Linked DNA regions of Homo sapiens: regions 1 and 3 are each linked to region 2. Evidence: fine-mapped expression QTL. A gene starts in region 2. Each other region holds a variant in brackets. All regions are shown on one strand. Distances are from middle to middle.

Region 1 (2,752 bases), 130 kb before region 2:
CTCCCCAAGTCGGGACGTCTGCTCCCTGCAAACCAGCTCAAGGGGTTCACTTAGATGGCTCCTAACCCCTGGAAGCCAGGCAGACAGCACCCAGCTGCCCTTGCCTAGGGATTGGTTTTCCCTGCAGTCACGTCCAGCAGTTAGCTCAGTGTGTGTGTGTTTGAGCACTGCAACCTCCACCTCCCAGGTTTAAGCGATCCTCCTGCCTCAGCCTCCCAAGTAGCTGGGACTACAGGTGTACACCACCACGCCCAGTTAATTTTTGTACTTTTAATAGAGACGGGGTTTCGCCATGTTGGCCAGGCTGGTCTCCAACTCCTGACCTCAAGTGATTCACCTGCCTTGACCTCTCAAAGTGTTGGGATTACAGGCATGAGCCACTGTGCCTGGCCCCAGTGTGTGTTTTAAAGGGACAAAGGAATGAGACGCTAGGACTCTGCGGGGCGCTTTCAGGTCATTGGTCAACCCAGGGCTGCAGCACAGGAGTGCCAGCCTGAGCCCCGGCACACAGCAGCCCTGCAAGGCCAGGCTGGGCCCCAAGTGGCCCTATCCAGGGGCTCAGGTGGTGGGCACAGTCACCCCTTCTGAGAGCTGCAGTTAGAGGAGCTTCCTGGGGGCCACATCTGCACTCCCAGGCAGTTGGGGTTGGGATCCGGGGTCCCCAGGGAGCAGGGAGGGCCCCCCCCCCGACCCTACTCAGCCAGGGGTGGGGCATTGATCAGGCCCTCTCCGCCCAGGGTTCCTGTGGGCACAGAGGGCCCTTCTTGCAGGGAGGGGAGACCCCCACGGACACAAGATGGCAGTGCGATGACCGCACAGCACAGCAGGGGAGATGGCAGAGCCTTGGGGCCGTGGGGGCCCGAAGGAAGCATGGACTCTGGACCCAGCCTGCACACAGGCCCTGGGAGGCCTCTGGAGGAGGGAGGCAGGGGGAAGTCTGGGATGAGCATTGCTGGAAGAGGAGGGCTGGGCCCCGCCAGAAGAGACAGGAGTGGGGGGAAGGTGAGGAGGAGAAGCACACTTGGAGAAAGGTGCATAGGAGTCAAGGTCAAGAGACAAGAAATAGGGGGTTGGGTGCAGGTAGAAGGCAAGTATCCTAAGCGTGTACCTGGCAGGCTGCGCCAAACAATGGGGATGGGGCGGGAGAGACGGGGAGGGCGAGCAGGGAGCCCCCTGGTCTTGCTGGTACCCTCTACCCAGCTGGCCAGCTGCTGCTCTCCCTCCAGGGCCCCCTCAGGGTTCTCTTCCTCCAGGAAGCCCTCTAGCTCTGACTCCTAAGTAGGACAGCCTGAGGGTGCTGGAGAGGAGGGCCAGGTGGGGCCTGGGAGGGGCTGAATGGTCTTGTCAATTTAAAAAAGAAAGGAGAGGCCTGGAACAGTTAGGAAGGACACACTCATTTAAGGTACAGAGAAGGTGAGCAGCCTGAGAAGGGCGGCTGGAGACTCCAGAGGAGCGTGGGTTCCCGTGGACGATGGGAGAGGGCCATTGTGTGCAAG[A/G]CATGAGGAGGCAGCCCAGGCAGGGGCAGCTGGGCTTCCCAGGACAGAGGCCTAGGGACTCCAGCCCAGCCCAGACGAGGCCCAGGGCTGCCCATCTGCCTGCGCACCCCCAGGGCACTCACTGGGGTGAGACACTGCACTGAGCCCTACAGGACTTGGTGCCACAAAGAAGAGCCGGTGCAGGGAGACACAGGCCCAGGCTGCCAGGAGGCAGGGCTCGTCGAAGCTTCTAGGCCACAGAGGGTCATCCAGCTACTCCTTTGCTGCCTCCAGGGAGCTTTGGGCTCAGGGCTGACCTTTTCCCCGGGCCCTGACTGCCCGCCCCACGCCCCCACGCCCCCACACCCCGCGCACTGGCCCCAGGGCCCTGGCTGGAGGTCACTGGCAGGAAGCAGAGCTTTCCCATGCGGGTGTGGCTCCCTACCATGTTTTGGCTGCAGGAGAGGCCAGAAGGCAAGTCCAGGCCAGAGCAAGGCTGCCCAGCCAGAAGGGGCTGTGGCAGCCATTCAATCTTGTCCATCAGGGCCTCCCTGAATAGTACTCAGGTTAGAAGGTCTGAGGACTCCGCCCGCTGCAGGGCCTGATGGTGGCAGCTCCAGCCACAGGACGAGGAATGGGCCCTCCTGGCTCGGGCTTGCCTAGCTTTGTAAGCCCCAGGGCAGGGCCACCACCCACAGTTGGGCTGCCCGGCCCTCACCTGTCCCAGCCTCCTCTGACCTCTGACCCCCACCTCCCTGGCTGCCTCCCACGCTGGCCTGGGATCCTCGGCACCTTACTGGGCACGGGCCCTGAGGGTAAGCATGAGGCTCCCCGTAGCTCCTGTCCCTCTAACGCCATTCCTGTCCAGGTAGGTATGGGATCCCGGAGCCTTTGGGGATGGTGGTCTCAGGGAAACTCCCCGTCCACGGCACTGGAGGGGCCCTTGGCCTGCCGGCTCTCAGGGGGGATATCCTCAGAAGAGGAGTCTCCACGGAGAATCAAAAGAGAGGGCCCGGCCTCCCACCCACTTGGGCTGGCTCTCCCTGAGCCCCCAGTGGCACCGGCCCGCAAAGAAAGAATGGGCAGCGTGGAAGGAGCCGCCACCAGCACCAGGGACTGGCGGCACTGCTGCGCTACCTTTCTTATCTTTCTTCTCTTCCTCCTCTCCGCCAGCTCCAAGCAGCGTGAAGATGATGCCTGTCTGGGAATTCACGCCAACGGCGGTCACCACCATTCTTCCAGAACCTTCCATGACATGAGTGCCTGGAACAGCAACA
Region 2 (2,752 bases):
TGAGACTTATTCTAGAATAAGTTATTCTAACCACCTAAACTGGCAACCAGACCTCCCTTCCCCGGCTCTTACTGCCTTTTAACAGACTCTGTAATTACTAATGGAAAACATTTTCTGCTTATTGTCTGCGCTCAGCCACTAGAACGAGAACAACAGGGCAGGGCTTACTACCGCCGTGTCCCTGGCAGATCTCAAATGCTTGCTCAGGAGGTATCTGTGGGAGTGAATCAGTCACAACTAGCCCTGTAGGGAAGCGCTGGGTGCCGCTTTCTGCCCAGCTCAGCTGGCTCCTTCTCTCACCCTTGCCCACCACTTCCATCGGCCCTTCGCTTCCTCCTTGGCTTGGCTAAGCTGATGCTTTTCCGTGGCATGCCAGTCACCTGGTCAACATCCCGCACCACCGCGAGGCACCAGCCCCCACCTGATACCCTCTGGAGCACAATTTTGGGCATCCTGCCCCGATCTGGAGACCCTCAGGGCCGGTGCCTGGGCAGCGGTGCCACAACCTCACAATGCCAGTCTGCCCAGCACTCTCACACCCAGAGGTGCAAAATCCAAACTCACCAGGCAGATCAGCGACAGGATGCTCTTTAGCCAGCCTCGGGACCGGTGGCTGGAAACCAATCAGGAGAGAAATTGACAGACACGGGCCGCAGCTCCCAGCGCCCAGCCCTGGATGGCTCTTCCCCTGGCGCCCCTGGTACGGGGCGGCCCCGAGGGCTGGTCCGGCCACTCAGTGCTAGCCCGCCTCCCAGGGAGTCCCTGCTTGTCGCCGCCGCCGCAGCTCCCTCGTCCCCCTCGACACCTGCACCCTGCCGAGACGGGCCCCTTACCCGCTTACCCGCACCCCTGCGGCCCAGCTCGGCCCTCTTACCTGGGCTCGGCGGGCAGCCGAGGGAGTCGGCCTCCCTTCCTGCTCCCGGCAGGCCCGAGGCCAAGGCCGCCGCCTCCTCCTAGAAGCCCTCCGAGGCCGCGTCCCCAGGAAACGCGGGCGGGGGGTGGGGGCTCCTGGGCTTGTCTCGACTTCGCCTCTGGGTACCGCTCGCGAAGAGCGTCCTGAAGGGGAGTCTCAGTCTGGTGCGCCGACGAGCGGGCCGGGAGCGGGCGGGGCCGGGGCGGCGGCAGCGTGGGAACGGGGCGCGTTGTGGGGGGGGCATGGAGCATGCGCGGCGCAGAGGGATGGCGGCCCGCCCCGCGCCCGCCCCACAGGGGCGTCTGGCCTGGCTCCCCACGCGCCCCGAGGCACTTCCGCTTTCTGTCTGGGCTGCTCTGAAGGCTGGGGTCGAAGTGGTCAGCGCACCGCGGCTCCTGAAGGGGACGGGAGGGACCCGCGTTGGCAGAACACCTCCCATGGGCTAGACCCCTGGGCGTTATTACGTCCATTCATTCAGTTATTCATCTCGCTGGGGTCCCCGGGACCTCTGCAGGGCAGCTAGCACCAAGTACCCCGGCCATGGTCACTCAGTAAAGGAGTGACCCAGGATGGCAAGGATCAGAGAGCGGGGAAGAGGTGAAAGGTGACTCAGGGAGCATGGTGTGGAGACACGAGGAGGGGAAAAAGGAGGTCAGGGAAGTGCAAGAAGCCAAGACCCTCTGGGTGCATCTGGCTTTCCCTCAGGTTACCGGAGGGGATCGCACCTGGAGTTTGTCATTTTCCAAAGGGTCATGCTCCACGTGGTAGAGCAGGGAGTGAAATCCAAGGTTGGTTGGGATATTGCTCTGATGACAATTGTGAGACCTTTGACAAATAGTGAAGCGTATGAAAAAGACCGTAAAAGAAAAGCAACAGGGAAAAATCAGCCACATCACATATCCCAGCCCCGGCCACTGGGAACTGAGCACGAGGCGGGAGCCTCCTTGGCCTTTGAACCAGAGTTCAGGGGTTTCTTTTCTTCAGAGACCCTGGGCCCTGGCCAGGAGCACTTAGCCCGCAGCAAGGAGCCCTCGGCAAGCCTGCGCTCCCAGAACAAAAGCCGTCCATCTGGGGCATAGGGGAAGGGCGAGGACGCTGCTCAGGGAACCTCCGGTTGCAGGGAGCAGGGCCCCCAGGGGGCCCAGTGCAGGGAGAGCTTCGGAGCCCCTTTCCCGGCGCAGAGGCAGGGAGTCTCCCGGTGGCCCTCAGCTGTGTGTCCTGGTGCCCAAGCTTGTCCCTTCACCGGGGCTCTGGCTGGGCAGGCTGGGATCTGGGCTGTTGAGATGTTGTGGGGTGACTGGTTGGTGCCCCTTGAAAGATACATCCATATCTTAACACCCAGGCACTGTGATCAGGGCCTTATATGCAAATAAAGGGTGTCTGCAGATGTCATTAAATTGAGGATGTGGAGATGAGAGCAACCCAGATGATCCAGGGGGCCCCAAATCCAAGGACAGTTTCCTTAGAAGAGACAGGAGAGAGAGACACAGAGAAGGCCATGTGGAGGCGAAGGTGGGGAGTGCCCAGGGCCCCCAGAAGCTGGAAGAGGTGGGTGGATCCACCCCCAGAGCCACCGGAGGAAGCGCCCGATTCTGGACTCCGGCCTCCAGAACTGGGAGAGTCAATTCCTGTTGGCTGAAGCCAAGCGGTTTGTGGTCATTTGCTGCGGCAGCCCAGGCCACTCCGACACGAGGGAATAGGCTGAGCCCAGAGTCCTCCTGGGCCATGGAGGCAGGGGGCGGGGGGACCTTTGCACCCGCATCATCCAGTAACCTGGTGGGGACTGGGGCGACCTTGGGAAGGCAGCTCCTGTTGTCCTTGGCTCATTTCCAGAGAGTG
Region 3 (2,752 bases), 53 kb after region 2:
GTTTTTGAGATTTGACCCAACTGTTAATCCTAGGAGCCAGGTTCCTTCTGGAAAACACACCACTGAAGCCTTTCTTCTGGAATTCAGTTGGCTGCTCTAGGAGCATCAGGTGTCATGCTGCGGCCAGCAGGAAGTGGGTAAGTGCCCAATACAGGGACCCCAGGAGTCTGCTTTGGGCACCAGAGGGCCAGCTCTGAAAGTGAGGATGAAAATGGATCATTACATTATAATAACAGTTAGGTTTGGAGATTGTAATACTCTGTTTTCACCCTGCTGATAAAGACATACCAAAGACTGGGCAATGTACAAAAGGAGGAGGTTTAATGGACTTACAGTTCCACGTGGCTAGGGAGGCCTCACAATCATGGTGCAAGGTGAAAGCCATGTCTCATATGGCAGCAGACAAGAGAAGAGAGCTTGTGCAGGGAAACACCTCTTTAAAAACTATCAGATCTTGTGAGACTTATTCACTATCACGAGAACAGCACAGGAAAGACCTGCCCCTATTGTAATTGAATAATTACCTCTCGCTGAGTCCCTGCCACAACATGTGGGAATTCAAGATGAGATTTGGGTGGGGAAACAGCCAAACCATAGCATTCTGCCCTCTCCCCTCCCAAATCTCATGTCCTCACATTTCAAAATGAATCATGCCTTCCCAACAGTCCCCCAAAGTCTTAACTCATTTCAGCATTAACTCAAAAGTCCACAGTCCAAAGTCTCATCTGAGACAAGGCAAGTCCCTTCCACTTATGAGCCTGTAAAATCAAAAGCAAATTAGTTACTTCCTAGATACAATGGGGGTACAGGCATTGAGTAAATACAGCTGTTCCAAATGAAAGAAATTGGCCAAAACAAAGGGGCTACAGGCCCCATGCAAGCCTGAAATCCAGCAGGGCAGTCAAATCTTAAAACTTCAAAATGATCTCCTTTGACTCCATGTCTCATGTCTAGGTCATGCTGATGCAAGAGGTGGGCTCCCACGGACTTGGGCAGCTTCACTCTTGTGGCTTTGCAGGATACAGTTTCTCTCCTGGCTGCTTTCACAGGCTGGTGTTGAGTGTCTGCAGCTTTTCCAGGTGCACAGTGCAAGCCATCAGTGGATCTACCATTCTGGGGTGTGGAGGATGGTGGTCCTCTTCTCATAGCTCCACTAGGTGGTGCCCCAGTAGAGACTCTGTGTGGGGGCTCTGACCCCACATTTCCCTTCCATACTGCCCTAGCAGAGTTATCCATGAGGGCCCCACTCCTGCAGCAAACTTCTGCCTGGGCATCCAGGCATTT[T/C]CATACATCCTCTGAAATCTAGGTGGAGGTTCCCAAACCTCAATTATTTTTTTAAGATGGTGTCTTGCTCTATCACCCAGCCTGGAGTGCAGTGGCATGATCTTGGCTCATTGCAACCTCCACCTTCTGGGTTCAAGTGATTCTCCAACCTCAGCCTCCCGGGTAGCTGGGATTACAGGCTTGCACCACCATGTCCAGCTAACTTTTGTATTTTTAGTAGAAACAGGTTTTCTCCATGTTGGCCAGGCTGGTCTCGAACTCCTGACCTCAACACCTTGGCCTCCCAAAGTGTTGGGATTATAGGTGTGAGCCACCATGCCTGGCCCCAAACCTCAATTCTTGACTTCTGTGCACTCGCAGGCTCAACACCACATGGAAGCTCTCAAGGCTTGGGGCTTCCACCCTCTGAAGCAATAGCCTGAGCTGTACTTTGGCCCCTTTTAGTCACAGCTGGAGTGGTTGGGGCACAGGGCACTAAGTCCCTAGGCTGCACATAGCAGAGGGACCCAGGGCCTGGCCCACAAAACCATTTTTTCCTTCTAGCCCTCCAGGCCTGTGATGGGAAGGGCTGATGCAAAAGTCTCTGAAACACCCTGGAAGCATTTTCCCCATTGTCTTGGTGATTAACATTTGGCTTCTTGTTACTTATGCAAATTTCTGCAGCCAGCTTGAATTTCTCCTCAGAAAAGGGAATTTTCTTTTCTATCACATTGACAGGCTGCAAATTTTTCTAATTTTTATGCTCTGTTTCCCTTTTAAAACTGAAGGCCTTTAATAGCACCCAAGTCATATCTTGAATGCTTTGCTATTTAGAAATTTCTTCCACCAGATACCTTAAATCATCTCTCTCAAATTCAAAGTTCCACAAATCTCTAGGGCAGGGGCAAAATGCTGCCAGTCTCTTTGCTAAAACATAACAAGAGTCACCTTTGCTCCAGTTCCCAACAAGTTCCTCATCTCCATCTGAGACCACCTCAGTCTGGATTTCATTGTCCATATAATAATTACCAGCATTTGGATCAAAGCAATTCAACAAGTCTCTAGGGAGTTTCAAACTTTCCCACATTTTCCTGTCCTCTTCTGAGCCCTTCAAAATTTGGAATCCAACCTCTGCCTTTTACCCAGTTCCAAAGTCACTTCCACATTGTTCTGTGCAGGAAACGCGTGAAGGGAGAAGAAAAGATACACACACAATACCTTTACGGGTAAACAACCTTTATCCCATGTAAATGGCAATGCAGATATAATAAGCAAGTGATATAATAATAAGCAAATGATATCATAAGCAGATTGATACAATAAGCAAATTGCAATGGGAAGGGGAGAAGGGAATATATATATTTACACTCACCAGATTGTGGAGGATTCACCACCAGACTGGGAAGCAACATCCTGGGCTCCAGAGTTGGCCACTCATCTGTGCACAGACAAAGAGAGGTCTCATGAAGCTTTGGTGCAGTCTGGGACC

Alleles and levels. Positions count from the first base shown, and alleles are read on the strand shown. Sizes are in standard deviations (SD) of each study's normalised expression.
As copies of A replace G in region 1, the expression in putamen of the gene that starts at base 1,106 in region 2 goes up (small effect, 0.36 SD a copy in GTEx).
In carriers of allele T in region 3, the expression in testis of the gene that starts at base 1,106 in region 2 tends to be higher than with C alone (moderate effect, 0.40 SD a copy in GTEx).

What was found. PIP is the estimated chance that this variant, and not a neighbour inherited with it, causes the effect.
Region 1: its variant is the best candidate, but not a certain one, in a credible set for the expression of ZFP92 in putamen (GTEx, PIP 0.81).
Region 3: its variant is the best candidate, but not a certain one, in a credible set for the expression of ZFP92 in testis (GTEx, PIP 0.63).

Annotation. Positions count from the first base shown.
Region 1 is chrX:153,543,029-153,545,780 of GRCh38, reverse strand. It overlaps ATP2B3 (ATPase plasma membrane Ca2+ transporting 3), which reads right to left. Exons shown (of 22, transcript NM_001001344.3): 7 at 2,613-2,738. Among named protein-coding and RNA genes, the nearest start is that of ATP2B3, 27 kb to the right of the region's middle. RefSeq lists an enhancer at 1,057-1,909. The variant A/G (reference allele first, on the strand shown) is at 1,497.
Region 2 is chrX:153,409,826-153,412,577 of GRCh38, reverse strand. ZFP92 (ZFP92 zinc finger protein) reads right to left here and starts at 1,106. Exons shown (of 6, transcript NM_001136273.2): 1 at 875-1,106; 2 at 565-613. It also overlaps a transcript of PNMA6E not described here. RefSeq lists silencers at 588-798, 861-1,000, 1,061-1,310.
Region 3 is chrX:153,357,140-153,359,891 of GRCh38, reverse strand. It overlaps LOC105373378 (a long non-coding RNA gene), which reads right to left. Exons shown (of 3, transcript NR_135656.1): 2 at 2,636-2,701; 3 at 1-193. Among named protein-coding and RNA genes, the nearest start is that of MIR12129, 23 kb to the right of the region's middle. The variant T/C (reference allele first, on the strand shown) is at 1,285.